4 linked regions of the Homo sapiens genome follow. The protein of the gene in region 4 interacts with the protein of the main gene of each other region in a pairwise test. Each region holds a gene or a part of one and is shown on either strand. Other genes may lie near its edges. The genes, in order: VPS52, GOPC, PRPF6 and MRPL1.

The links.
Region 1: the proteins of MRPL1 (region 4) and VPS52 interact in binary tests that used the Homo sapiens proteins (3 or more experiments, as listed by UniProt).
Region 2: the proteins of MRPL1 (region 4) and GOPC interact in binary tests that used the Homo sapiens proteins (3 or more experiments, as listed by UniProt).
Region 3: the proteins of MRPL1 (region 4) and PRPF6 interact in a two-hybrid assay, tested with the Homo sapiens proteins (one large-scale study listed by BioGRID).

Annotation. Positions count from the first base shown.
Region 1 is NC_000006.12:33,261,877-33,269,137, forward strand, and holds part of VPS52 (vacuolar protein sorting-associated protein 52 homolog), read right to left. Parts: coding exon 7,138-7,261; intron 6,774-7,137; coding exon 6,623-6,773; intron 6,333-6,622; coding exon 6,232-6,332; intron 6,122-6,231; coding exon 5,989-6,121; intron 5,864-5,988; coding exon 5,806-5,863; intron 5,446-5,805; coding exon 5,312-5,445; intron 5,198-5,311; coding exon of another isoform or gene 5,132-5,197; exon of another isoform or gene 4,856-5,131; intron 4,837-4,855; coding exon 4,681-4,836; intron 3,025-4,680; coding exon 2,906-3,024; intron 2,622-2,905; coding exon 2,498-2,621; intron 2,228-2,497; coding exon 2,132-2,227; intron 2,004-2,131; coding exon 1,896-2,003; intron 1,674-1,895; coding exon 1,608-1,673; intron 1-1,607. UniProt on the Homo sapiens protein: Acts as a component of the GARP complex that is involved in retrograde transport from early and late endosomes to the trans-Golgi network (TGN).
Region 2 is NC_000006.12:117,560,533-117,567,295, forward strand, and holds part of GOPC (Golgi-associated PDZ and coiled-coil motif-containing protein), read right to left. Parts: intron 6,503-6,763; coding exon 6,322-6,502; intron 2,853-6,321; coding exon 2,722-2,852; 3' UTR 1-2,721.
Region 3 is NC_000020.11:63,998,748-64,006,639, reverse strand, and holds part of PRPF6 (pre-mRNA-processing factor 6), read right to left. Parts: intron 7,596-7,892; coding exon 7,501-7,595; intron 7,038-7,500; coding exon 6,881-7,037; intron 5,564-6,880; coding exon 5,401-5,563; intron 1-5,400. UniProt on the Homo sapiens protein: Involved in pre-mRNA splicing as component of the U4/U6-U5 tri-snRNP complex, one of the building blocks of the spliceosome.
Region 4 is NC_000004.12:77,881,786-77,889,677, reverse strand, and holds part of MRPL1 (large ribosomal subunit protein uL1m precursor), read right to left. Parts: intron 6,437-7,892; coding exon 6,178-6,436; intron 4,423-6,177; coding exon 4,339-4,422; intron 2,459-4,338; coding exon 2,387-2,458; intron 1-2,386.

The sequences.
Region 1 (7,261 bases), on a different chromosome or scaffold from region 4:
CTAAAAATACAAAATTAGCCAGGCATGGTGGCACATGCCTGTAATCACAGCTACTCAGGAGGCTGAGGCAGGAAAATTGCTTGAACCTGGGAGGCGGAGGTTGCGGTGAGCTGAGATCGCACCATCGCACTCCAGCCTGGACAACAAGAACAAAACTCCATCTCAAAAAAAAAAAAAAAAAAAAAAAAAGCTTCTGCACAGCTAAAGAAACAATAAAGTGAAGAGACAAAGAATATTTGCACATCCCATCTGCCAAGGGATTAATAACCAGAATATATAAGGGGCTCAAACAACTCTACATGACAGTCTAATAATCCTATTAAAAAATGGGCAAAAGATTTGAATAGATATTTTTCAAAAGAATACAAATGGCAAACAGACATATATGAAAAGGGGCTCACCATCACTATTATCAGAGAAATACAAATCAAAACTACAATGAGATCTCATCTCACTCCAGTCAGAATGGCTTTTATCCAAAAGACAGGCAATAGCAATGCTGGCAAGGATGTGGAGAAAAGGGAACCCTTATACACTGTTGGTGGGAATGTAGATTAGTACAAACACTTTGGAGAACAGTTTGAAGGTTGCTCAAAAAACTAAAAGTAGAGCTACCATATGATTCAGCAATCCCACTGCTGGGTATATACCCAAAAGAAAGGAAATCAGTACATTGAAGAGATATTTGCACTCCCATGTTTGTTGCAGTATTGTTCACAATAGCTAAGATTTGGAAGCAACCTAAGTGTCCATCAACAGATGAATGGGTAAAGAAAATGTGGGATATATACACAATGGAGTACTACTCAGCCATAAAAAAGAATGAGACTCAGTCATTTGCAACAACATGCATAGAATTGGAAATTATTATATTAAGTGAAATAAGCCAGGCACAGAAAGACAAACGTCATGTGTTCTCACTGATTCGTGGAATCTAAAAATCAAAACAATTGAACTCATGTACTCATGTACGAAGAGAGTAGAAGGATGGCTACCAGAGGCTGGGAAGGCTAGTGGAAGGCTGGGGAGAAGGTGGGGATGATTAATGGGTACAAACAAAAATAGGAAGAATAAATAAGACCTACTATTTGACAGCACAACAGGGTGACTATAGTCAATTATAACTTAATTGTACATTTTAAAATAACTTAGTGTAATCGGATTGTTTATAACACAAAGGATAAATGCTTGAGAGGATAGATAAAGAAAAAAATAAAATTCATTCTAAAAATAAAAAATTAGCTAGGCATGGTGGCTCGCACCTGTGGTCCCAGCTACCCAGGGGGCTAAGGTAGAAGGATCACTTAAGCCCAGGCTGTTGAGGCTGCAGTGAGCCATGTTCATGCCACTGCACTCCAGCCTGGGTGACAGAGTGACACTTTGCCTCAAAAAAAAAAAAAAAAAAAAACCAAAGACAAAATAAAATAAAATAGACCAATAATGACAGTATGTTGTGAATCAAGAGTTACAGTAATTCCGCATACCTGAGATCCATTATGCCACTCCCTACACACACACACACACACACACACACACACAGAGAGAGAGAGAGAGAGAGCTGAAAACAGCACAGAAGGCTGTCTCTTCCCTTTTCCCCACACCCCTACCTGTGTCCGAGCATTGAGCAGCTGCTGGAAGCTCTCAACCTCTTTGCTGTCATCTGCAGCCCGCTCCTAAGGGAAGACAAAGGGAAATGTCTAGTTTGGGGAAAGCAGTCCTTCACTTCAGGATGTCCCCTTCATTCCACACTTATTGTACTAAGCTGGACACTGTGCCAGACTCCAAGAGTAAAACACTGAACAAGACAGGCATCATCTCTGCCCTCACAGAGCTAACAGCAGTGGGGGAAACCGAATTTTCTGGGTAGGAAGGCAAGGAGAAGGAGCACCTATTACCATCAGCACACCCAGCATCATGTCATAGTTGTTGATCAGAAACACAAGCTGCTCCTTCCTTGAGGAGAACTCAGCTGCCACTCGGAGGACAAAATTCTCCACCTCCACCTGAAAAGGCAGAGAGGAAGAGGTGACACCAGAAAGCAAGGTCATCTGGGCCCCATCTGGCTCCTCCTCAGACTCCACCCACTGGAAGCAGCCCTGCTGCTGGGAAGTGTCTCCTGTCCGACCCTCACCTGCAGCTGTCCCAGCAATTGCATGGTCCGTTCATTAGGAATTGTCTGGTTGATACTGACAAGAGCGGAGGAGAACTCTGCATAGCGGCGTGTGATCTAGGAGAGAGTGGGAAGGAAAATCACACCCACCTCCTGGCCCAACCAACACAACCTCCCAACTTCCTTAGCCAACCCACCTCCATGTGATGTGACTCTACCTTCAGTCCCTCCTACCCACAGTGCACCACTCACCATGAGTTTCACCACCCTCCCAGAACACCTGCTCATAGCGTGGCCCATGACACAACTGTGACCTTGGCCAACCCCCACAATGATGCTTAGAGCCCTGCCTTTCAAGAACCCTTTGTTACCCTTGCCCTCCCTCACATAGTGGGGCCGAGTATCCAACCCCCCTAGGCGCTGGGGGTCAGTGCTTCGGACGCTCTGAACATTCATCTCCAGGATCAGTTCAAACCGTGGCCATAGCAAGGCAAGCACCTGTTCCCAGTACCTGTGGGCTTAATCAGAATCAGAGGTCAGCCAGCAAGGAATGTTGGAGGGGGATGGGAGGGAGTGGGGCATCATTCAGTTTAATGGTCAATAGCTAGTTGTGGGGGTTGGGGGGCAGTGGTTGGAGAAAGGTGAGTCAAAAAGCAGCACTACTGCCTCCGGAGCAAATGAATGGGAATAAAGGTTGATGATACCAGGTCAGTAGGAGTCTAAGGTCAGGGCAGAGTCATGCAAGACCAAGAGAGTTCGTGGCCTGTTGGGCATCAAGGACCAGAATTCAGTGACCTGTCCAGGGCAGGAACATCCCTCTTTGCTGCAATGTTACGGAACCGGAGAACAATGTGGATACAGAGAAAAACAGCAATGGCATCGTAGCAGTCAGCTAGATAAGAATCCAGGTGTTTCTGTGTGATTGGGGAACAAACAGAGGATTAAAAGAGAATGTCAGTTTGTTGTCCTCAGTGACTATGAACAAACGCATTTGTTTCTTTGGGGATGATGCACTGGACAGGACAGAAGGGAGAGACGTAAAATGGAACTGCCCCCTGCTTTCCTGTCCAGGATCTATGTTTTTGGCTTTTTTTTTGTTTTTTGAGATAGAGTTTCACTCTTGCCACCCAAGCTGGAATGCAGTGGCACAATCTCGGCTCACTGCAACCTCCGCCTGCCTCCCAGGTTCAAGCAATTCTCCTGCCTCAGCCTCCTGAGTAGCTGGAATTATAGGCGCCTGCCACCACGCCCGACTAATTTTTGTATTTTAGTAGAGATGGGGTTTCATCATGTTGGTCAAGCTGGTCTCGAACTCCTGACCTCAGGCGATCCGCCCACCTCAGCCTCCTAAAGTGCTGGGATTACAGGTGTGAGCCACTGCACCCGGTGTTTTCGGCTTTAGAGACAGGTTGTTTTGTCACCTAGGCTGGATTGTAATGGTACAATCATAGTTCACTGCAGCCTCAAACATCTGGGCTCAAGTGATGTTCCCACCTCAGCCTGCCAAGCAACTGGGACCATGGGTGTGTACCACCATGCCTGGTTAAGTTTATTTTTAAATTTTTTGTAGAGACAAGGTCTTGCCGCATTGCCCAGGCTGGTCTCGAACTCCTGGCCTCAAGCAACCTTCCTGCCTTGGTCTCCCAAAGTACTGGGATTGCAGGCATAAGCCACTGCACCTGGCCACACCAGGATCTATGATCACAAGCCTATCACAGCAGAGTTCAGGGCTGAGCTTGGGTCAGGGGTTTGAGCACCAAGATTTGGGGGACCCTCAGTTTTCACGTGCTATTGCCTGATTGTGGGTCAGCAGTAGGGGTAGTCTCAGGGACCCTACGCACTGAGGATTTCATGGGGGAGTAACACTGTGACAAGTCTAAGTAACAAGTTTTTTTTTTGAGATGGAGTCTCGCTCTGTCACCCAGGCTGGAGTGCAATGGCGCAATCTTGGCTCACTGCAATCTCCTCCTCCCAGGTTCAAGCAATCCTCCTGCCTCAGCCTCCCGAGTAGCTGGGATTACAGGCCGCGCACACCTGGCTAATTTTTGTACTGTTAGTAGAGACAGGGTTTCATCATGTTGGTCAGGCTGGTCTCAAACTCCTGACCTTGTGATCCTCCCGCCTCAGCCTCCCAAAGTGCTGGGATTACAGGCGTAAGCCACTGCACCTGGCTATTTTTTTTTTTTTTTTTTTTTGAGACAGGTCTCACTCTGGAGTGCATGGCTCACTGCAGCCTTGACCTCCTGGGCTCAAGCAATCCTTCCACCTCAGCATCTTTAGTAGCTGTGACCACAGGCACACATCAACACACACCCGGCTAATTTTTCATTTTTTGTAGAGATGAGGTTGTTGCCCAGGCTGGTCTCAAACTCCTGAGCTCAGGCAATCCTACTGCCTTGGACTCCCAAAGTGCTGGGATTATGGGTGTGCACTACCACGCCCAGCCAAGGCTTAGACATTTTAGAATGAGGCGATCCTGATTTCAGTTCTACCAGAGTCATGACCCCACTATGCTGCTGATGAAGACTGGGGACAAAGGTGTTGAATGGTACAGGAAACAGGAGTCTTACCAGGGTCATGCTGAGTGTACGGCCCATGACAGCATGGAACAGGTCGTGTGCAGCTGGGCCAGACACAACAAAAAATTCACAGATGAAAAGGTATTCGCGGCAGGAATTGTCTAGGAGGGCGTAGTGCTGGCTGCGGAAGAGGGCCTCAAATGGATACTGGGAGAGGAGGAGTAAAGAAGAAAAACAGAAGGGATGGACCCCAACACTGACTTCCCATGGATATGGCTGGAAAATCAGTAAACCTGAGTAATAAGAGCTAGGCAGACCCTTCGCATCTATCTAGGTCCGGGCTGTCTAAGAGCAAGCTGAATGGGCACTGAAAAGGTGGGGGAACATAGGGGTACAAAAAGGGCCTACACCCACCTGCTGTTGCTACTCCTGCATCCACCTCAACACCTGCCTCTGACTGTCATTCCCCTCATCCAGTCTCTCCCCTCTGCATGCCCTTAAGTCAATGGTTCCCAGCTCTTTTCACATCACAGCAGGCTGGAGTGATTGGAGAAGGCCACTCCCAAGTCTAAGGGGATTAAGACAGGGCCTGCAGGTTGGGAAGCTCTGCCCTGAGGTCTGGCCTTCCCTCCCCACCGTGCTCAGAGCCTCTTTCGTGACTGAAGCTTGTTCCTCCTCATACCCTCTGCTCTCCGCGCTGCGCTGTGTGAGGCACCAGGATGGGGGCCTCAAGTTCAGTGGGGGAGATGACAGAGCCGCGGGTTCCTAGGGTGAAAATGGTGTTCCTGCTGCGGAGCGATGGCTTTGAGAAGAATCGTAAGATGGGTCAGAGTCAGGGAAAACAATGAGACCATAACTGGGCCCAAAGACTCACTATCTGTGGGGACCCCAGACAGGCAGACGTGGCCTAGCCAGCCCTCTTTCCCAGTACTAGGGCCCCACGTGCTGACATCTGTGAATGGGCTTCAGGGTGTCTCTCCCTCCCTTGCAATCATATGCAAAACTATGTGTCAAAATAATGTGTGCATCTTTCTGGGGAGGGAGGCTATAGCTTTCATCACATTCTAAAAGGTTTCAGTCCCATAGGAAAAGGTAAGGAGCAGTGCATTGGTGGCTGGAGTCGAAAGTCCTCCCACTCTCAAGGCCTGGCATGAGGGTTCCCCAGTACTAGGATATCTTTCTTTGCTGTATCTTCCACACCCATTAGATCATCTTTCTCAGCGACTTCCTCATACTAAGGAAAGAGAAAAGAGAACTGATAACCGTCTCTTCCCACAACACAATAAAATATTCCTTGCCCAGGGATGTCCCCTCCTCCCAGTCCATGTGCCCAGGAATACCTCTCCCTCCTGACCTTACCTGCACCTTCATGAGCCGCCCCAGGTAAGAGCGGTAGTAAGACAGGTAAATCTTGCTCAGCGTCTCCACATATTCATCCCTGATCTCCTTTGCTGTTGCTCGTTCATTGCCCAGCAGAAACTGATAGAAGAACCTAGGGGGTCAGGAACATGTCAGTCTACCTGTCTCCCAAGAAACCAGATGCCCACACTAGGCCGCTCAAAAACTCAAAGGCCATCCCATGCACTTCCTTGGGGTTGTGACCTGTACTTCAGCAGGGCCGTCTGGGGGATCTGATAGTTGGTCATGGGTTTCCTGAAGGAATAAATCTTCTGGAGGATAAACTCTCGGATCTTCGTCACTGCCTAGATGTGGGGAACCAAACACAGGGCATGAAGCTGCAACCCTTTTGCTGTATGAGAGGAACTGGGGGAAGCAACAAATGGTAAACATAGGCAGAAGGGTGGTGAATATCTCTTTGGTATTTCTCAAGATTTTCAGGGAAACCCAGAGAGACAAGAATGGGGCTGCCCAGAAAAGGCAGGGTGAAGTCCCTGGAGACAGGCTACAGTGAGCTCTGCCAAGGAAATCCATAGTGAAGATCTTGGGAAGGCTGCTTCCAGTAGCCTCCAGGGTATCCATCCCTACTTCCCACCTTGACCCGGAGCCGATCGAGCACGCCTCTGACATCTGCGCAGGCTGCTGTGCCTCTAGCTTCCTGCTCTCTGACTGCGGCTGCCTTGGCATCCAGCTCCTGTAGCTGCTCCAAGAACCTGGGCTCTGTCACTGGAGCCTCCAGAATTGCCCTGGTTAGCAGGGAGGGGTGGGATGAGTTACAAGGGAGACCCAGACATCCCTAAACCAGACCCAGACCACACTCCTTACCTCCAGCCCCTGTCATCTCTACCACCTTGCATTGTACCATATAGTCAGGACACATGTACAAAGTTTTCTATTCCTGGACCTCCCCACTATACACCTGATCTTACATCATTCTTAATCTTAATCTTTGATGCCTAATGCATACCTAAAGAAATGGTGGTTAACCTGGCTACTAATTTCTAAAAAGCACTTAACCTGGAGCCAGGAGACCCATATGGTAAATAGGGTGGGTCACCCCAGCCCATCCACCTGCTATGGACATTATAACCCTTCAAACTGGTAACTCACGTGACCAGAGCAGAAGGCACCACCAGACCATCAACAAGCTCCCCAAGTTTCCCCCGAACTGCCTGGCGATTTCGAAGTCGAATGTTCATGGCTCCTGACTGTTCCTGCAGTGTCCGGATCTCAG
Region 2 (6,763 bases), on a different chromosome or scaffold from region 4:
CAGCATAAGTCCACTGCAGTGGGGAAAAAAACAGCACCACAGACAAGCTGTGCTAACTTTCGATAGCTGTTGACTTGTAATTATCAAGACTCACAAAATTTTCGTCTTTCTCAAATTTATTTTAACAATAGTCTCACCACCAAAATGTTGCTTTTCCATCATATTCATAACAGAGATACTGTAGAAGAGAATTTTAGAGGTTAAGTGTAAATATATACACGCACACATACAACCCTCACATTTTATTAAAACGTTTTCTCAACCATTCTGTTTGTGTATACATGTGTGTATTTCTCCTTCTGTCCCCTTCTCGATGAAATGGCTTTGCAACAGTTCCCTCCTTACTTGTTTGGTTTTGTCCTAGAAGTTTCAGGGACATATGAATTTCTTTCCTATAAATGTGAAAATATTAAAATTGGTTCTCAGTCCTTTGGAACTAATAACTAATTCTTAGTTCATCCCCAAAAACCATACATTCTAAAATGAACTTTTAACTAGTTACTTTCTAACACCGGACAGGAAGCTCACAGTAGCATCTGAGCAACGGTGCTCTCCCGTAGGCTTATAAACCACAGTGAAGCAGGAATGAAAAGGAAACTGACCTGTGGAGTTTTAAACTACCTGGAAACTTTTCATTCTATTTATCAGTCCTTAAAAGGAATTTATATCATGACAATCTCACACAATTCTTCAAATTACACAGTGACCTCATAAAAATTCCAACTTGAAGTTTTAAAAAACCACCTCTTCATACACTTATTCGGTAGTTCTTGAAAATCAAAGGGTTATAGCTTACATTTCCTAAGGATTCAGTCATAGCAGATAAAGGATGTTCTCTGAAAAAAATGCCATGGCCATTCCATCCCAGGCTGTGTTTTAAGAAGATAAGAATAACATGGTTTCATGTCACAGCAAAAAGGTTTTCGGGTCTGCTACAATGGACAATTTTTTTGACTAAATAAATACGGTGGCTAAAATCCAGTTTGCAGATCTCATGTCATGCATGGAAGGTATGTGTTTGGCATAGGGGATTCATAAAGAAAAAACAAGTTGTTTTTTTTCTTTTAAGAGGCCTACCCTGTCAAGAGCAAACAATAACATGTAACTTGCTTATTCATTTGTACAATTAAATACTAGCTTTTGCTCAGAGACAATGCTATAAAGTATTTTAATGTCAGTAACAATATACACTACGAAGTGCACTTCCATTACAAATTAACATGGTGATATACAGATGAACACCACCACCCAAAACAAACCATAAATGAGCAACAGTTAAAACATTAAATTTATAAATAGCAAAACCACAAAATAAAGTATATACATTTTATAGATTTACCCTTGAACAAATATATAGTGTATCTGGGAAAGCCAAAAAAAATGTGTTTTATCACATAACATCTGAATACCAGAAATGAAGATACTGATAATATTCTAAAAGCCTTGTAGGCTTTCTCCCACTTAATATTCCTTTAACTGTACGTCCTTTAAAACAGTGATATTAGCAAAGCTATCACCTCTTTAATGCAATGTTGTGACTTTGCCTAGCAGGTTACAATGACCTGCAGAATATTAAATCAGAGAGGAGGCACTCCATGTTTAATCATGGGACAACAGACCTAACAAATTTATAAACCTGCATATGAAGAGAGCTTTAGTCAAACATAAACTGACATGAAAACCCAACCAAAACAATTACTGTATCAAAATGTCTTTATCTCATCTTGCCCACCTTTTAGATGACTGGAAATCATTTACTTAGAAAGAAAACTGCCGTTTGATTTGAATGTACTGTGTTTCATGACATAGTAATAAATCTGAACTTTTACTACCAGAAAAATTTGTCTTTAAGTGCCAGGACTATCACAAGACAAACTTTATGAACAACTCAAAATGTATAAAACTGTCTTTTGTGGACCCCAGAAAACAAGCATTTGAGGCTCAACATGAATGGGTAAATGCTCCAGTACTGCGCACACAGATCAACATAATTGAGAACAGATGTTTTACACTCATCTGCATTTCTTTTAAAAAACAAAAAAAGTAAAATGTTTAGTAACTTTTGAGAATCTATTTCTAGTGCAGCATTGATTGATAAAAGACTGCTTAAAGAAAACTATTTTGTACTGCATTGAATAAAGCTGAAATGCAAACTCATTACAATAAATGATCATTAATAATTGGTTTAGATTTTAGGATGCACAATAAATTTTTTTAAGTCTAAAGCCTTTCAGTTACAAAAATTAAGTCAAGCCTATATTTCTACAATTCATTGAGTCAAGCTCTGTCTTCTGAAATACCACAGTTAACATTCTAGAATATAAAATATGAATTCACTTACTCTCTGTATTTTAAAGGGTACTCCTTATAAAATTCCAGTTAGCACTGTCCTCCTACTAAAGGGAAAAGGAACCAAGTAAAACAGTAGGGTTTCATTTGGTACTTAAGAGCCCAGTAATACCCCTTTGGGAAACACATGCTTTGGTGCTTACAAGTTCAAGAAAATCAAAATTGCTTTACATGCAATAGCTAATTATGGTCTACCACAGAAAACAGGGTGTTTTATGCATTGAGAATTGTTCACATGAAGCCCTGAGGTACCCGCCTTTCATTTAGGCAACAAACAGCCTCCCCTGATTTTGTAGTCTTTGTCACCATCTTCCCCAGTGCCCCAAATTCAGAATAGTCTGATTAACAATCTTGTCTGGAGATATGGTCAATTTAATAAGATTTTTTATGATACAGAGTGTGCAGATCATCTAATTTTGAAGCACCGTCATCTAGCGGAGTTTCACTTGCAGTGCCCAGGTCTCCATTTTCATGTGTGTCAGTTACTGCCTTCTTATTAAATCCTGAAAGAAAGGAGAAAAAAAAAGCAGACACTTTCTGGTTTAAAAAGTTGGTTTTGGTCAGGTGCAGTGGCTCATACCTGTAATCCCAGCACTTTGAGAGGCCAAGGTGGGTGGATAACCTGAGGTTAGGGGTTCGAGACCAGCCTGGACAATGTGGTGAAACCCCGTCTCTATTAAAAATACAAAAATTCGCCGGGCATGGTGGCACATGCCTGTAATCCCAGCTATTTGGGAGACTGAGGAAGGAGAATCACTTGAAGCCAGGAAGTGGAGGTTGCAGTGAGCTGAGATCGTACCACCGCACTCTAGCCTGGGTGACAGAGTGAAACTCTGTCTCGATTAAAAAAATTAAAAAAAAAAAAAAAGTTAGTTGTATAAGTTTATTGAGTGAAAAACAAAGGAATGCCCAAGTAATTAACATTAGTAATCTGAGGCAAAAATAATGCCTTATATTAATCAAATCAGTAATTCCTAACAGGGGAATTCTTCCCTCTTATGGCAGGTATCAAATATTGTACAGATTTAAAAATACTATATTGGGCTTATGTAAAAATTGTATTAAGTTTCCTATCAAGTTTTCCTTTCCTTTTTTTTTTTTCTTTTTTTTTTCTGAGACAGGGTCTCACTCTATTGCCCAGGCTGGATTGCAGTGGCATGATTACGGCTCACTGCTGCCTTGACCTCCTAGGCTCAAGCAATCCTTCCACCTCAGCCTCCTGAGTAGCTGGAGCTACAAGCATGTGCCACCATGTCCAGCTATATTTTAAAAATTTTTTTGAAGAGACAGGGTTCACTATGTTGCCCAGGTTGGTAACTCCTGGCCTCAAGCGATCCTCCTGCCTTGGCCTCCCAAAGTGCTTGAATTACAGGCATGAGCCACCATCAAGCTGTCTGTAAGACTTAGAAGTAATACATATAATTGTAAAATTCAGTCAATTCTACTTATATAAATATCTACTGAACTGTGAATTATATTTTTATTTTTCATTGTTGCTTTCATATTACATTAACTTCAGTTAACTGAGGCATATACTAGTTAATTGCTTAAAATGTAATTTGTTGGCAAGATGATGTCTAGCTAAAACTTAAAACGAATTCTGATCATCTATAAAATAAATAATAGGCTTATAAATAAATAAGTGTTGACTATATCACCTATTTAGGTGATATATATATCTATAAAGTATAGACGTGTGAAACAATAACCAATAGATACATTTTTTTAAGTGAGTCAGTTAAAAGATATATACACACAAATTTTTAGTTGAGTCACATTTTAAGTGTCTGCAATTTGCATATGTGACAGAGAAGACTTCTAGCCTCAGTTACAAAAAAAAGGAAGAGACAGGCTTTCTAATCCCGACAGAAAACAGCAAGTGTGAAATACAATGAAACCATATGGAGAGCAGCCCAACAATTAAGGTTTTGACATACTGCCACAATAGTTTTGCTCAAGATGCACAGTGAAAACAGTAACTGCTACTGCTATCTTTGTGCAGACAGTTTACAACACACAAGTTTATCAAAAGTGCAACAGTTTATCAGTTCACCATAAAACTCCATGCCAGGAGTTCAACATTTTGGTCTCAGGAGGCCTTTATACTAAGCATTGAGGACTCCAAGAAGCTTCTGTTTATGTGGATTATAGCTACTGATGTTTCCCATATTAGTAGGTAAAATTGAAAAATCTAAAAAAAAATTCATTTCTTTGTTAAAAATGACAATAAATCCAGAAGGTTAATATAAATAACATTTGTCTAATGACAAATAACTCTATGTTCCAAACAAAAAAATTCTAGTTAGAAGAGTAGCATTATTTTACAATTTTACAAATCTCTTCAATGGCTTTGTAGATGATAGCTGTATTTTCATATATCTGCTTCCATTCAATCTATTACAAGTATATGAAGAAAGTTCAGCCTCACACAGATATGTAGTTGCTAAATGGAAGAGTATTTTAACAGCCTTTTCAGATAACTGTCAGTATTGTTCTCTGATATTATACAAAAATTTGACAATGTGGAATTTGAAACCTTATCAGTGAACTTTTCACACTCTGTTATATTAAAATCCATTTGCCTATCTTGCATTTTGAATGGATCTTTTCCCATGCAAAATTTTATAACTTCATTTACTGGTGATTTGAAAAATATTGGACCATGAAGTTATGTAGCAATTCCAAAAGTTGACACATTTCACTTTACTGTATCAAAAAATCACATTCATTAATATCATCATCAATCTCATCAGAAAAGCTTAAGTGTTAGGAAGCTGTCAAGCTCATGGTGATCAACGTATGTTTTACAAAGTTCTAACTTTCACTTGAGAGCTCACATTTTATCACTGGCAATAAATATTATCAGTTGTCTTTCCTGAAGTGATGGACTTTGTTCATTTTTAAGAAAATGGCTTCCAAATAGTCCGAAAATCCATACTTTGTTAGTCATTCATTCAAGTAAAAATTGTCTTCCATGAAGAAAAATGGCTAGTTCAGTCACTTATGTACTTTCCCTTGAAACCAGCATCTTTGTTCAGTGTGCAGAGTAAGTGCTTTATGCATACTTCCCATCTCATCACAAAGAATATTAAAAAGACAGGTACTCAAAGGTCAATATTTAAAAATTAACTGTTACTGCCATTTCATCAAAGATATTTTTAAGCAAAATTGGTATCTTCTTCTTTTACTATGAATGGATGGCAAGGAAGAAAACAATGATTACTAGTACAGTTACTAGTATTAGCAACACTGCCTTGATTAGTGCTAAGGCACCAGCAGTTTTACCCCAATTGCTTTTGCATCAACCAGATACCATCAGTGCAAATATCAACATAGCAAAAAAAGACAAATGATGTCTTAGTATTATTATGAAAAGCTTTGACCTCATGAACTCTGCTAAAATATCTCAGAGACCCTCAGAGATCCACAGATCACAATTTGAGGACCACTGCTCTATGTAAAAGGAAGTGCTAGAGTTTTTCCTTAAAATATGTCTAAATGATAGCAAAGGAACTAAACCAAACATCCCCAAGATAATATAAGTTGATTCTAATAGCAATCATAAGGTGACAGTATACTTCATACTTATTCATAATTAGCTTAAAATTCATTGTGAGAGATGAATTTGCATCAAGACAGACAGACAATGTAGTCTACAAGATAGATCTACTCAAAATAGTATATTGGTCTTTGTTTCAGAGTCTAGAAAAAATTTTATTTATTTTTCAAGGATCACTTGCAGTAGAGTAACTGGTAATGTACTTGTCTTAACAGTCCAAGATGAATATAGAAGAACATATATGGTAAATAAACTGTTAGCATAGTATACAATAAAACAATAAACAAGGGAAAGCTCTTCATTCCTTTGATTTCCTCACAAAACAGTTTTACTGAAGAAATTCTGAGGCCTTCACATTTTAAACATTTAATAATAATGAATATGTTAATAATAATTTTTAGAGTGATTTTTACCTTGTAATACTTTGATTTCCCCACTTGTGTCTTTGCAACTAGCACCAGGGTTACCACCTCCTTCTAACTCATCAAGGTACAAACGGTAACGATGTCCACTCTCATCTTCATACTCTACGTTTTCATCATCAGAATCCACTTCAGGAGCCACATAAACTACTTCAAATTCAATCTCTCCTCTCTAAAACAGGAAATGAAAATGAGAAAGTCAAGTTATTGTAATTGTAATTTAAAAAGGATTTCCAAATTCTTTGTGGGAAGGCTTAGGGGTAGAGAGATCTAAGAGATAGCTGATTTCCAGAAAATAAATAATAAAATTCTAGAATCTAAAGAGGTAGTGAGGCCATCATGTCTGATCAGCCTCGTGAATCCTCTCTACAGTTCCTTTAAACATTATAGTAGCTCTTTCTACTGACCATAGTCTTTTTGCTAATAGATCTAA
Region 3 (7,892 bases), on a different chromosome or scaffold from region 4:
GTCAAGAGAGCTGGTCCAAAGGCCGGGTGTGGTGGCTCACATTTGTAATCCCAGCACTTTGGGAAGCTGAAGCGGGTGGATCATGAGGTCAGGAGTTCGAGACCAGCCTGGCCAACACAGTGAAACCAAACCCCATCTCTATTAAAAATACAAAAATTAGTCGGGTGTGGTGGCAGGTGCCTGTAATCCCATCTACTTGGGAGGCTGAGGCAAGAGAATTCCTTGAACCCAGGAGGCGGAGGTTGCAGTGAGCCGAGATTGCGCCACTGCACTCTAGCCTGGGCAACAGAGCAAGACTCAGTCTCAAAAAAAAAAAAAAAAAAGAGCAAGCTACGAGCTACTCCAAAGGGAGTATGTGCCAACCAGGGTGCAGACCACAGCTCCCTCTGGCCTCCTCATGTACCAGCCCTGGCTGGAGAGGCTAACCCTGACTCCCAAAGCGAGACTGAGTTGCTGCCACCCACTGTGGGAGACTATCTAGAGGCCAGTCCTAAAAACAGTTTAGTATTTCTGCTTTTACCAGTAAAAGTTAATGGGAACTACAGCCACCAAAAAAGCAAAACTACCAACAAGTCAGACCCTTTGGGGATAAAGATATGGGTCCTGGCTGAGCACAGTGGCCCCCATCTGCAGTCCCAGCATTTTGGGAGACTGAGGTGGGAGGATCACTTGAGCCCAGGAGTTTAAAACCAGCCTGGATGACACAGGGAGACCTCGTCTCTTTGAAAAATTAAAAACTCAGCCAGGCATGGTGGTATGTCCCTGGAGTCCCAGCTATTCAGGAAGCTGAGACTGGAGGATAGTTTGAGTCTGGGAGGTTGAGGCTTCAGTGACCCATGATCATGCCACTGCACTCCAGCCTAGGCAACAGAGCAAGATCCTGTCTCAAAATAAAAATTATTTAGGCATGGTAGTATGTACCTATGGTCCCAGCTACTCAAGAGCCAGAAGCAGGAGGATCACTACAGCCCAGGAGGTTGAGGCTGCAGTGAGCTGATTGCAACACTGCTCTCCAGCCTGGGCAATAGGACGAGGCTCTGTCTAAAACAAAAAAAAGATTTGGGTTACTCATCCAGGTCAAGAACCCTGACCAAGCAGGGTGACAGCAGAGGGCACAGCAGTAAAGAAGGAAAGTCCTAACCTCCAACCAGGCGACTAGGCATAGAGAGAAGACACAGAACGACCCAGTTGTTTTTCCTGTGCGCTCTCACCTCGACTGCGTGGGAGATGAGTGCTCTATTTGTCTAAATATGAACTACTTCCCTTAATACTTTGTACATTGGTGGAGATGAACTTCGCGTCTCTAAAGAACAGAATATTCATGCGGGACTCAATTTATGGAGTCATTAACTTACGACTCCCAGGACTCTGTGTCTTCAAGTTTTGGGAGAGAGCTGACATATCTCCATGGCATCTCATCAGCAGCCCACAGGCATGGCACTAAAACCAACAAGGTCACCTTCCCCAGGTGCTTTCGGAAGCCACATGGCACACCATGATACAATGGCCTTCAAGGAGTGTGACTTTATGAGCAGAAGTGGAGGAAGCACACACCCCTGAAGTTGGCCTAGAACAGAAGAGTATTCTGAATGCTAGACACAGCCATGAAGACGTGACCGTGCAGAGGCCAACATGCTCTCCGGGGGTCACGTGACTGCAGGGAAGACCCTCAACCTGAACTGTGCCATTCCTGTGCCCCCAGAGGGACACGCTGGCGACGGCCACTGAAGGATGCCACGCTTCACAGGCCAGAGCATATGGCGTTAGTGTAAAATAACTCCACTTCCACACATCTGCATTAACTAGCGGAGTACACAGCATGTGAGTGCATTATTGTAGGGGAGCTGCCAGTCGGGCCTCCCCAGGGGACTCTGCACGTGGGACACCCCACCCTGGCCAGGAAGCTCACATGCTGCACCCTCCCCAATCCTGAAAGCCCTCTTCCCTTTTACAGAGGAAGACATGGAAGCTCAGAGGCCAAGCACCATGCCTAAGGTTACTCAGCCTCCTCAGGTCTCAAGATCAGCACCCAAAACGCCCATTCTCCCAACAAAGGACTAAGGTGTCAGCTCAGCCCAACAGCGACCCAGAGCTCACAGAGACCATGCACTGCCAGGCTCCCTGGCTGGCAGGTGTCCTAAGTCACCAGTGGAAGTAGCTGTCATCTTAATTTCAAAAACCAGACCCTTCAAGCAACGTGTAAGTGTTTGCTAATAACCAAATGAAGCAGTGCTGGGCTTCACCCCAGGAAAAGAATACAGTTTTTGGAAACACTCTTGGGAAAGGGCAGGCCAGGACCAGTATTAGGGCAGCGGCAAAGGCCATCCTGGAGATCCTGGGTTCATTCCACCTTAGCCCAGCTTCTCTGCCTGAGAGAGCACAGCCAGGAGGCCACTCCCTGAGAGAACAGCCGTGGAAACACAGTCCCTCAACACTCCCCGAAGGCCCCCGCCTCCAACAGCATACTCCCATCTCCAAATCCAAACCAACTGGAAATGAACCCAGACAATCTGGTGGTGAGCAGGGAGTGGCCACAAAGACATTCATGATCATTCATCAAACTGTGGCAGGAAGAATTCAATAGAGCTTTTCTAAGTAAACAATACTAATTACCCAGACTTTCATGGGCTCTTCATCAAAGAACTATTTCTTCCTAGCTGAAAAAAGATAAACTGATTTCTACAAACCCAGACAGGTGCTAACTTTCTGTTCCTGGCCACCTCATTATAAGACGCTGTCTCTGGCCGGGCGCGGTGGCTCACGCCTGTAATCCCAGCACTTTGAGAGGCCGAGGCGGGTGGATCATGAGGTCAGGAGATCAAGACCATCCTGGCTAACATGGTGAAACCCCATCTCTAATAAAAATACAAAAAAAAATTAGCCAGGCCTGGTGGCGGGCGCCTGTAGTCCCAGCTACTTGGGGGGCTGAGGCAGGAGAATGGCGTGAACCTGGGAGGCGGAGCTTGCAGAGAGCCGAGGTCGTGCCACTGCACTCCAGGCTGGGCGACAGAGCGAGACTCTGTCTCAATAAAAAAAAATAAAAGAGGCTGTCTCTGAGCATTCACTGAGCAGCTGGGCTGCGGTCAAGAAACCAGCCTCGACAGAGGAAAGCACGTTCACATGTGAGTGCACAGGGTCGGGGGAACATGCATCACAGGCAAGCAGCCTTCACCTGTCTTCTAACAGACGTAGACAGTAAGTGAATGAAACTATATTTGATAAGGGGCTTTCTACCAAAGAGCCCTCATCTGCACGGTCCTATCAGCACAGAAGCCTCAATGGGATATTTCGCTTAAAGACATTTGGAAAAACAAGAGCTGGAAAGCTCTCACTGAAAACTGCCCTTGATTCCATAAAATACACTTTATTTTTCCTAGGCTATAAATTCAGGAAGAATAGGCTGGATGCGACGGCTGATGCCTGTAATCCCAGCTCTCTGGGAGATCAAGGCAGGAGGATCACTTGAGGATGGGAGTTTGAGACAAGCTTGGACAACACAGCAAGATCCCATCTCTACCAAAAATTAAAAATAGCTGGGCATGGGGGTGGGACCTATACTCCCAGCTACTTGGGAGGCTAAGCTGGGAGGATCGCCTGAGCCTGGGAGGTGGTGGCTGCAGTGAGCCAAGATCGTGCCACTGCACTCCAGCCTGGGTGACAGAGCAAGACGCTGTCTCAAAAAAAAAAAAAAAATCTGGCCGGGCACAGTGGCTCACGCCTGTAATCCCAGCACTTTGGGAGGTCGAGGTGGGTGGATCACTTGAGGTGAGAAGTTCAAGACCAGCCTGGTCAACACAGTGAAACCCCGTCTCTACTAAAAATACAAAAATTAAGCAGGCGTGGTGGCAGGTGCCTGTAGTCCCAGCTCCTCAGAAGGCTGAGGCAAGAGGATTGCTTAAACCCAGGAGGCGGAGGTTGCAGTGAGCCAAGATGGTGCCATTGCACTCCAGCCTGGGGGACAAAGTGAGACTCCATCTCAAAAAAAAAAAAAAAAGAAAAGAAAAGGCCAGGCACAGGGGCTCACGCCTGTAATCCCTGCACTTTGGGAGGCCAAGGCAGGAGGATCACTTGTGGTCAGGAGTTTGAGACCAGCCCGGCCAACATGGGGAAACCCCATCTCTACTAAAAATACAAAAATTGGCCAGGCATGGAGGCGCACACCTGTAATCCCGGCTACTCGGGAGGCTGAGGCAGGAGAATCACTTGAACCCGGGAGGCAGAGGCTGCAGTGAGCCAAGATCGTGCCCCTGTACTCCAGCCTGGGCGACAAAGCGAGACTCTGTCTAAAAAAAAAAAAATGGATAGAAGCCACCTGCATAGGCCAGGTGCAGTGGCTCACGCCTGGAATCCCAGCACTTTGGGAGGCCGAGGCAGGCAGATCACAAGGCCAAGAGATCGAGACCATCCTGGATAACACAGTGAAACCCCATCTCTACTAAAAATACAAAAAGAAATTAGCCAGGCGTGGTGGCAGGCGCCTGTAGTCCCAGCTACTCAGGAGGCTGAGGCAGGAGAATGGTGTGAACCCGGGAGGCGGAGCTTGCAGTGAGCCGAGATCACGCCACTGCACTCCAGCCTGGGCGACAGGGCGAGACTCCATCTCAAAAAAAAAAAAAAAAAAAAAACCAGAAAAAAAAAACAAAAAATGAAAAAAAAGAAGCCACCTGCACAGATTAGCTTCAGAACAGCCCCCTGACTAGCACTCGTTCTGGACCCAGTTCAAGAGCAGCATCTACTACACACTTCCAGTGACAGGAGAAACAGTGCTCCTTTTATGAATCCACAGTAATAAAAATAAACAAACTACCCACAAAAGCTCTACCCTGGCAGGAATCCCTGGATGGAATCAGGTTGCCTGGTAGGCACACCGTCTGTCGTTATCTGACCTGAGCTGACGGCACACGCTGCATCGCGGGAGCAGAAGGCACAGCCTCGTCAGCAGCAGGAAAGAGTTCAATCAACGTGTGGCTCTGGTGCCTTCTCAGGAGAGAAAATGAGTAACACCCACAACGGGTCTGCACGTGCCAGGTGCCGGCTCAGCTCTTCACACAGACCATCTCCAGAGCCCCAGGACACAGGCTTTGAGCTACCGTTGTTCTCACCCTGCAGATGAGGGAAGCCTGGACCAGAGTGACCGCCCAAGCATCCAAGATCACACACTGGAAAAAGGCAGGAGTGAGGGCTCAACCCAAGCATCCCTTCCAGGATGGGAACTTGCCCACCACAGTATCCCTCCCCCATGGGGGTCCAAGGGCAGAGGCAACCCAGCCTGAGAAAAGGCCTGAAAAATGTCCCTGGTTCCTTATCCACTCTCACCAAAAGCCTGAGCCAGGAGCAGGAAAGCTGCTGAGAGGAGGGGCCCCAAGGAGGGAGAAAGCAGCACCTCCGAGGGAGGCTCACCTTTCCGAAGAACCCGCTTCTTTGCACGAATGTCCGTTTCCAGCTCTGCGGCTCTGATGTAAATCCTGACAGACTGTGGGAGATGACGGACAGCTTGGGCTACCACGGCCTTGGCTGTGTCCCCAGGCTGCAACCTGGCTGCTTCCAGCCAGACATCTTCACTCTGTGAGGCAAGAGATAAGACCAATAAGGCTCAGTGCAGGCTGGAAGCCGCAACAGGGCAGCAGGCACAGATCTCCAGAGCAGATCCTCGGGCCCCAGAATTTACGAAAGCCAATTAGCTCAGCCTCTAACACACCTGCACCAGGAGTCGCCCCCTTATAACCACACTTGGGAACATGGCTACCATATGTCTGACTGAAGAACACCTAATGGCCGGGCGCGGTGGCTCACGCCTGTAATCCCAGCCCTTTGGGAGGCCGAGGCAGGTGGATCATGAGGTCAGGAGTTTGAGACCAGCCTGGCCAACATGGCAAAACCCTGTCTCTACTAAAACTACAAAAATTAGCCGGGTGTGGTGGCAGGTGCCTATAATCCCAGGTACTCAGGAGGCTGAGGCAGGAGAATTGCTTGAACCCGGGAGGCAGAGGTTGCAGTGAGCTGAGATCACGCCACTGTACTTCAGCCTGGGCAACAGAGCGAGACTCAAAAAAAAAGAAAAAAAAAAAATGAAACACCACTTTGTGAAAAGAGCATGATTTCCTTCAGGACAACTCCATGGACAAAGCAGAGACTGCACATCTGCTCGGGTCGTTCTTTTTTGTTGTTTTTTTTTTTTTTTTTGAGACGGAATCTCGCTCTGTCGCCCAGGCTGGAGCAGCATGGTGCAATCTCAGCTCACTGCAACCTCCACCTACCGAATAGCTGGGATTATGGGCACCTGTCACGACGCCTGGCTAACTTTCATATTTTTAGTAGAGACGGGGTTTCGCCATGTTGGCCAGGCTGGTTTCTAACTCCTGACCTCAAGTGATCCACCCGCCTCAGCCTCCCAAAGTGCTGGGATTACAGGCGTGAGCCACCGTGACTGGCCACCATTAGGCGGGTGAAGAGCTGACCAACTGAGCTCTTTATAATGAAGCTTAGCCTGCCGTCAAACCAGTGGTGGATTCAGGCGTGGTGGATTCAGGCATGGTGGCGGGCGCCTATAGTGCCAGCTACTCTGGAGGCTGAGACAGGACAATGGTGTGAACCTGGCAGGTGGAGCTTGCGGTGAGCCGAGATCGTGCCACTGCACTCCAGCCTGGGTGACAGAGCGAGACTCCGTCTCCAAAAAAAAAAAAAGTGGTGGATTAGCCTTCACTCCACATGAAAACAAGCAGGAAAAAGCCCTTGGCTGCTTTTCACATCCTCCCCCAGCCTGCCCTATTGTCTGTAGTTTCAATACCAAAAGACAAAGAGATTTGCTCTAACAAGTTTACTCCCGTAGGGGCCACAATCACGCAGCCTCCCAGGAAACGCCTCCCAGGAAATACCTCACCTTGGGGCACATCTCCGTCCCCTTCATGATAAGGTTCCGAGCTACTTGTAGCTTCCCAGTGACTTCTTCCAGGCGGGCTGATGCAATCCAGGCTGGCGGGTGATGAGGGTTCGTCTCCCGAACAGACTTGAGGAGCAGTCGCGCCTTCTTGATATCACTATGAGAGGGAGAGTGCACACGGCATCAGGCCATGCTGTCAGGGGTGCACCCGAGACCTGGGATGAGGGCACCCACTTCACAGTCACAATGTAAGAACTATCAGTCCTGATGTCCTGAGTTACAAAAACCAACTCAAAACCTCAGTGCGCACTATTCCAAGCCTCTGTAGCCTCCCCGCAGACAAACGCTGAGAACCGAAGGTCCAGATGGGACATGTGGGACACAGCCAGCTGCTTTCCTGCCCAGCACAGGCAGGGACTTTGCAGTATCATATGTAACACATTGAGTGTACGCAATGAATGGATACAGATACATTTCAAATGGAAAAAACAAACTACTCCACTTTACATTTCTTAGAACCGCCATGTCCCATTTTGACAGCATACTGTCCATATAAAATCCAAAATACCCTAGGCAACTAGAGTCTCCATCCCAGCCCAGCGATTCTGCAAAGCACTCACTTGATGTCTCCTCCGTGTGTCGGGATCATGGAATTTAAATCCGTCAGGTAGCCTTTGGGGTCAACGACGGTCTGTCCACTCACGGAGTCAGACACCTGTGAGACAGGCCAAGCTAAGAGTCAGCTGGACATGACCAGGTGCAAAACAAAGTTCTCAGAGGGTCCCTGGTGCCCCTCCCACAACCCTGAGAGAGCAGTCAGAAGGAGAAGGAAAACAGCCTTCATTTCACTCAGACAACACCTTGTGATAATAACAAATTTCTTCTGTATGGAAAAAGATCTATTTTTTTTTTTTTTTTGAGATGGAGTCTCGCTCTGTCGCCCAGGCTGGAGTGCAGTTGTGCAATCTCGGCTCACTGCAAGCTCCACCTCCCAGGTTCACGCCATCCTCCT
Region 4 (7,892 bases):
TTTTTTGAAGGGTTTTTTGTATCTCTATCTCCTTCAGTTCTGTTCTGATCTTAGTTATTTCTTGCTTTCTGCTAGCTTTTGAATTAGTTTGCTCTTGCTTCTCTAGTTCTTTTAATTGTGATGTTAGGGTGCCAATTTTAGATCTTTCCTGCTTTCTCTTGTGGGCATTTAGTGCTATAAATTTCTCTCTACACACTGCTTCAAATGTGTCCCAGAGATTCTGGTATGTTGTGTCTTTTTTCTCATTGGTTTCAAAGAACATCTTTATTTCTGCCTTCATTTCGTTATGTACCCAGTAGTCATTCAGGAGCAGGTTGTTCAGTTTCCATGTAGTTGAGCGGTTTTGAGTGAGTGTCTTAATCCTGAGTTCTAGTCTCACTGCACTGTGGTCTGAGAGACAGTTTGTTATAATTTCTGTTCTTTTACATTTGCTGAGGAGTGCTTTACTTCCAACTATGTGGTCAATTTTGGAATAAGTGCAATGTGGTGCTGAGAAGAACGCATATTCTGTTGATTTGGGGTGGAGAGTTCTGTAGATGTCTATTAGGTCTGCTTGGTGCAGAGCTGAGTTCAATTCCTGGATATCCTTGTTAACTTTCTGTCTCGTTGATGTGTCTAATGTTGACAGTGTGGTGTTAAAGTCTCTCATTATTATTGTGTGGGAGTCTAAGTCTCTTTCTAGGTCTCTAAGGACTTGCTTTATGAATCTGGGTGCCCCTGTATTGGGTGCATATATATTTAGGATAGTTAGCTCTTCTTGTTGAATTGACAGGGTGGGGAACATCACACACCGGGCCCTGTCTTGGAGTAGGGGACGGGGGAGGGATAGCATTAGGAGATATACCTAATGTAAATGACGAGTTAATGGGTGCAGCACACCAACATGGTACATATATACATACGTAACAAACCTGCATGCTGTGCACATCTACCCTAGAACTTAAAGTATAATAAAAAAAATTCCATAACTTTATAATAAAGGATTTTATCTAGAGGAGGAACTTTTAGAGAGAACCCTAAGAAAAATCTTTTATATTTTCAGAAATAACTCCATGCCTCTTCTTCCTACTTCCTAAAAAGGAAAAAAAAAGTTCTCATTTTCAAAGAGGCTCTCCAAGCTCTGTTATTTTCTTATTTATTTGTTTGTTTATTTATTTTATTTATTTATTTTTTTGGAGACAGAGTCTCGCTCTGTTGCCTAGGCTGGAGTGTAGGCGCAATCTCGGCTCACTGCAAACTCCGCCTCCTGGGTTCAAGAGATTCTTGTGCCTCAGCCTCCCAAGTAGCTAGGATTACAGGCATGTGCCACCACGCCTGGCTAATTTTTGTATTTTTAGTAGAGGTGGGGATTCACCGTGTTGGCCAGGCTGGTCCCAAACTCCTGGCCTCAAGTGATCTGCCCACCTCAGCCTCCCAAAGTGCTGAGATTACAGGCATGAGCCACTGCGTCCAGCGAAGCTCTGTTACCTTCTAAAGGCAGGCTACATAATCACTTGTTGCTACCATACTGAGTCTATGCCATTCTGAAAGGATTAGAAGCTAAAAGTTAAGAGGAACCAAAAGCACCAACATTATAGAGGGCAGATACCATACTTTATAATCTACTAAGTGAATTACACCTTCACTCCAAGAAAAAAAACAAATATTTGATCTTCAAAACATGAATAGAGGTGTCCATGGGTATCAATGAAATCCATGCGACCTTGTGGATTTCATTTTAAACCTTACATTCAAAACCAGAGTCACACTGCCCTTTCCTATCTATCCACAAAACTCTCAGACAAAAAAGAAGCGAAAAATAGTAATAATAATAATAATCACAATAATAATTCAAGTATAATCAATATCAGACTGTCTGAGGTTGGGTGTGGTGGCTCACACCTGTAACCCCAGTACTTTGGGAGGCCAAGGCAGGAGGATTGCTTGATGCCAAGAGTTCAAGACCAGCCTGGGCAACAAACAAGAACCCTATCTCTACAAAAAAATTAGCCGAGTGCAGTGGCATGCACCTTTAGTCCCAGCTACTCAGAAGGCTGAGGCAGGAGGATTGCTTGAGCTCAGGAGTTCAAGGCTGCAGTGAGCCATAATTGCACCACCATCTTCTAGTCTGGACAACAGAGAGAGACCTTGTCTCAAACACAGACAAACACACACACACACACACCCCAAATAAACACAAACACACAAAATCAGACTGTCTGGATAGTTTTCTCCTAGCTTGATTTTGAAACTGAAGAAAGTTGGAAATTTTTTTCCTGCTCTTATAAAGACCTATTAACTATTTATCATAAGATATGAGACTAGTGTTCCACATATAACAGATCAATGAATGGTAAAGATAACAGAATCATCTCTATACTTAATGAACATGAAAACAACACTGTACCTTCTGTATCAGACTAGTGCCTCCTGCAAATGCAGCTCCATTTTCTTCCGCTATTTTGACCTCTGATGCATTCTACCAAAACACAATAATTTGAAAATCAATCATTAATTTTAAATATATTCAGTCTGCTTTGAAGTATGTTGTCAGAAATAATATCACAGTTCAAAGTACAAATTGTAGCTTTTATTTTTAATTGAAAATGTGGCTGGATGCAGTGGCTCTCACTGGTAATCCCAGAAGTTTGGGAGGCTGAGGCGGATAGTTCCCGAGGTCAGGAGTTCAAGACTAGCCTGGCCAACATGGCAAAACTGTCTCTACTAAAAATATAAAAATTGGCCGGACGTGGTGGCACACACCTGTAAGTCCCAGCTACTCAGGAGGCTGAGGCAGAAGAATCCTTGAACCCAGGAGGGGGAGGATGCAGTAAGCTGAGATCACACCACTGCACTCCAGCCTGGGTGGCAGAGTGAGACTCCATCTCAAAAAAAAAAAAAAAAAAAAAGAAAATGCAAACCAGGTGCAGTGAGCCACACCTGTAATCCCAACATTTTGGCAGGCTGAGTCAAGAGGATCACTTGAAGCCAGGAGTTCTAGACCAGCCTGGGCAACAAAGTGAGATCCCCGATCTCTACAAAAAAATATTAAAAATTAGCCTGCCAGGCTGGGTATGGTGGCTCACGCCTGTAATCTCAGCACTTTGAGAGGCCAAGGCAGGCAGTCACCTAAGGTCAGGAGCTCGAGACCAGCCTGACCAACGTGGAGAAACCCCGTCTCTACTAAAAATACAAAATTAGCCAGGTGTGGTGGTGCATGCCTGTAATCGCAGCTACTCGGGAGGCTGAGGCAAGAGAATCACTTGAACCCAGGAGGCAGAGGTTGCGGTAAGCCAAGATCACGCCATTGCATTCCAGCCTGGGCAACAAGAGCAAGACTCCATCTCAAAGAAAAAAAAAAATTAGCCTGCCATATAGTGGCTAGCACCCGCAGTTCCAGCTACTCAGTAGGCTGAGGCAGGAGAATCGCTTCAGCCCAGGAGTCCGAGGCTATAGTGAGTATGACTGCACCACTGTACTCCAGCCTGGACAACAGACCAAGACCCTGTCTCAAAAAAGAACTGAATGCATGAATTTTCAATTAAATGCATCAGGGATATTACATTCAGAACCATTATAGTTTGTGGATGATTAAAAAAAAATCATAAACACATTATAAACAAACATTTATTTAGGACAGTTTTATAAAGACTAGATACTTTTGAAAGTTGTGGTTTCTAAGGCACCACAGTACTAAATGGTTCCATTGCTTTAAAATAATCTTGTTGTCTGGGGAGAGAAGTTTGAACAGAAAGCAGCAGTTAATAGGATAAATTGATAAATTCCACTTTTCAGTTTCTTGTGAGAAACACAATGTAGCATTCTAGTAATGATGAAACTAATGTTCTAATTTAGCTCTTTCTCAAGCTAATAATATAACCTCAAATAAATCATCTAAATGTTTTGAGCTCCAAATGGGGAAAATAAGACTAGGTGAATGCTAGGATTTTCTCTAACTCCATTTATTCAGGGTGCTAATGATTGGTTAATAATTAATGATTAATTTGTGATCTCTAAAAAAAATTAAATGATGAGGCTGGACATGGTGGCTCACACCTGTAATCCCAGCACTTTGGGAGGCCGAGGCGGGCGGATCACAAGGTCAAGAGATCAAGACTACCCCGGCCAACATGGTGAAAACCTGTCTCTACTAAAAATACAAAAATTAGCTGGGCGTGGTGGTGCACACCTGTAGTCCCAGCTACTTGGGAGGCTGAGGCAGGAGAATCGCTTGAACCTGGGAGGCGGAGGTTGCAGTGAGCCGAGGTTGCCCCACTGCACTCCAGACTGGTGACAGAGTGAGACTCCGTCTCAAAAAAAAAAATTAAATGATATAAATAGTTGACGGAAGTTACTCACCTCTGTAAATACAGCAACTTTATTGATTTCGGAAGCAAATGGGTATGGCAAACTAAGAACACTGGTAAATGGCTCCACGTTTTTCTAAACACATGACAAGGAAAAATAATTACGTAAAGTTAATCTTTTCTATTTCACACACTCTATATAAAACAAGAACGGACATGTTTTGTTTTCAGTGTTCTGATTCTACTCTATGTTCTTCCATTAATTCAGAACTATTCATTGATTACTATTCATGAATTACTATTCATCGATTACAATTTAAAGCACAACAGATTATTTTTTTTTCAAGAAACTTTTTCAAGATTATATTTTTTTGAGAATAAAAAACTAAAATCTCTTTTTCCAGCTTCATAATCCCATGCCACTTGGCTTCTATCTCTACATCATTCATCACAGTCTCTCAAATATTATGAAATGTGTTTGCATATCAACATCTTCCCCAGCACTAGTACAATGCTTTCCATCTGATGTATAATAAATGTTTGCTATCTTCAATTAAATTTGTTTTAAACCCATGTAATCTTCTGACACCATCAGGGAGACATGACTACAGCTGTACATGCTGAACAATAGACAATATCCAGCTGATCTGCCCAGTAGGTCACCCCCAATTGCCATCATTGGCTCTAAACTATCAGGAATTGTAAACCCTAAACCCAAGACAAAATGTCGAGCCTAAAGGGATCTTCTGAGTGACTCTATTTTTGAAACAACCTAGACCATCATCACTTTCAGATTTATTTAGAAAGTCAATTGGAAAATCCTAAATAAACAATGGCATGCATTTGAGGCACGCTAATACAGGTGGAGATTTTACAGGACCACTAAACTAATCTGTCTAGTCATTTTGACCAGGAACTATTGAGGCCTGAGGCCTAGATCTCTCAGGGAGATTTTACAGAGAAACAAGTTCTAGGCCCTCCAAAGTTTTGTTGCAGCCTTAAGGTTTGGAAGAAAAGGTGGTTGTTCCCCTAATAAAACTGATTGAAGGATCAATATTTTTAGAAAAACCTTATTTTGAGTAGAAACATCCTCCTCGGGATTTCTTTATAGACAAGGAGAGACAAATTCTCTTTTTTTTTTTTTTTTGAGATGGAGTCTTGCTCTGTCGCCCAGGCTGGAGTGCAGTGGTGCGACCCCAAGGAACACATCTGAAGGACACTGAGCTAATCCAGAGCCCTCATTTACAGAGAAGAAACATGCCACCTAGGCAGTTTAAATCACTTTTCAAAGTTACAGTGATACCTCCGTTAATTTTAACACTACTTTTGTTGAAATTTATACTAGTGACTCTCTTAGAGGAAATAGGAAATCTATGTTAACTCTCTAGAGTGTTTTCAACAAATTTTATATTTGGAAAATTTTTAAATGAACAAACATATTTTTCATGCTAAAGTACAGAAAGAGCATGAAGTTTTCTAAAAATTATGAGAGGCAATAATTTTTAAAATTAAGAGGCCAGGCACAGTGGCTCATGCATGTAATCCCAGCACTTTGGGAGGCCAAGGAGCGCAGAGTGCTTGAGCCCCAGAGTTCAAAACCAGCCTGGGCAAAATGGGGAAACCTCATCTGTACTAAAAGTACAAAAATTAGCTGGGCGTGGTAGAACACACCTGTAGTCCCAGCTACTCAGGAAGCTGAGGTGGCAGGATCACCTGAGCCCGGGAGGTGGAGTCTGCAGTGAGCTGAGATCATACCACCGCACTCCAGCCTGGGCAACACGGCAAGAAGACCCTGTCTCAAAAATAATAATAACAATAAAATAAAATAAAGAAACACCAATTCATACAGCCACTGTTCACAGGTAAACTTATTTTAATGGACTCTACATACCTTCTTTCCCAGTGCCATATCCAGTGTCAAATCAAGATAAACACTTTGCTTTGGACTAGTAAAGTCAAGAATTTGAAATTTCTTAAGTAAGTGAACAGCTTTCTCCACCTCATATATCTGTCTCGGGTATAAGCGTTTTAAATAGACATCATCCTCAGGTTCGCCTTCCATATAGGGATATGCTTTTATTTTTTCTATTTCATCTTTTTTCTCATCTGGTGTTTTTTCTTTAGCACCTTTTTTTGTTTTCTTTGCAGACCTTAAAAGAAAATAAAGTTGAGTTATATCAATATATATCCTAAGAGATTTTTTTTAAAAAAAAAGCCAGTGTACATAAGAGAAAAAAAAACAAAGGATGAATTATATTTTAATTCAAAAGCATAGACTGCTTTACAGTTTTTCTAATTCAACAAACATGAAGTGAACTTTTCCAATGTCTGAAGTCATGAATAAGTTGAATTACCGCACTGATGCTGCTCTCCAGAAACTTACAGAGGAGTAGATCAGAAAGACATACTAACAGGTCATTTCAATATAATGTAGTAATACAAGAGCATCATCAGAGCCTGACAGAAAAGACATTCAATCCAGCCTAGGAGGCTAGGGAAAAGTTATAGAGGAAATGACCTCAAAGTCAATTCTTAATGGATAAGGAAGTGTTAGCACCCCAAAGAAGTGAAAACATATGACACAAAATCTAGTACACAAATGTTCTTAGCAGCATTATTCATAACAGCCAAAAAGTAGAAACAACCCAAATGTCTATCAACTGATGAATGGATACATAAAATGTGGTATGTCCATATAATGGAATATTAATCAACAATTAATAAAAGAATGAAATATTGATCAATGCTACAACACGCATGAACCCTAAAAACATTAAGCTAAGTGAAAGAAGCCAGTCACAAAAGCCCACATATTATTCCATTTATACCAAATATCAAGAATGAGCAAACCTAAGAGACTAAAAAGTAGATCTGGTGGTTGTCTAGTGCTAGAAGAGGAGGTTAGGGGAACAAGAAGTGAATGCTCATGGGCATGGGGTTCTCTGGGAAAGCAATGAAAATGCTCTAAAACTGATTACAGTGATGGCTGCACAACTGTGAGTATACTAACAACCAATGAACTGTACACTTTAAATGGGTGAATTGTGTGATATGTAATTATATGATACCTTAATAAAGCCATTATTTAAAAAATAATAGAGTTAGCCAGGTAAAGAAACAACGTAATAAAAAGTACTGAGGCACAAAATAAAATGGTATAAGAAGGAAGCTATTATAAGTTCTACATGACTAGAGCAGAGTTGGCAAACTTTTTCTGTAAAGGACCAGATAGTAAATGTTTTAGCTTTGTGAGCCATATGTTCTCTGCTGCAATGACTCAACGCTGCCACTGTAGTGCAAATATAGTCGGTAAACAAGATTGGCTGACTCGCCAAAGTTTGCTGACTTCTGAACTAAAACGGTAAAAGAGAAGGCAGGCAAGAGTGGAAGATGAGGTTAGAAAAGACAGAGCATAGGGGGGCATCCTCTAGAGGCAATAAGAAGTCAGTAAACAGGAGTAACATCTGTATTTTAGGCAAGGTATTCTGGCTGCAATATAAGAGAGAGACCTGAAGGAAGTAGGATTGAAAACAATTAAGAGTCTGTTCCCGCCCTTTCTTCTCAGAGATATGAGAACCTGAACCAGAGTAGCAACAGTAATAAGAC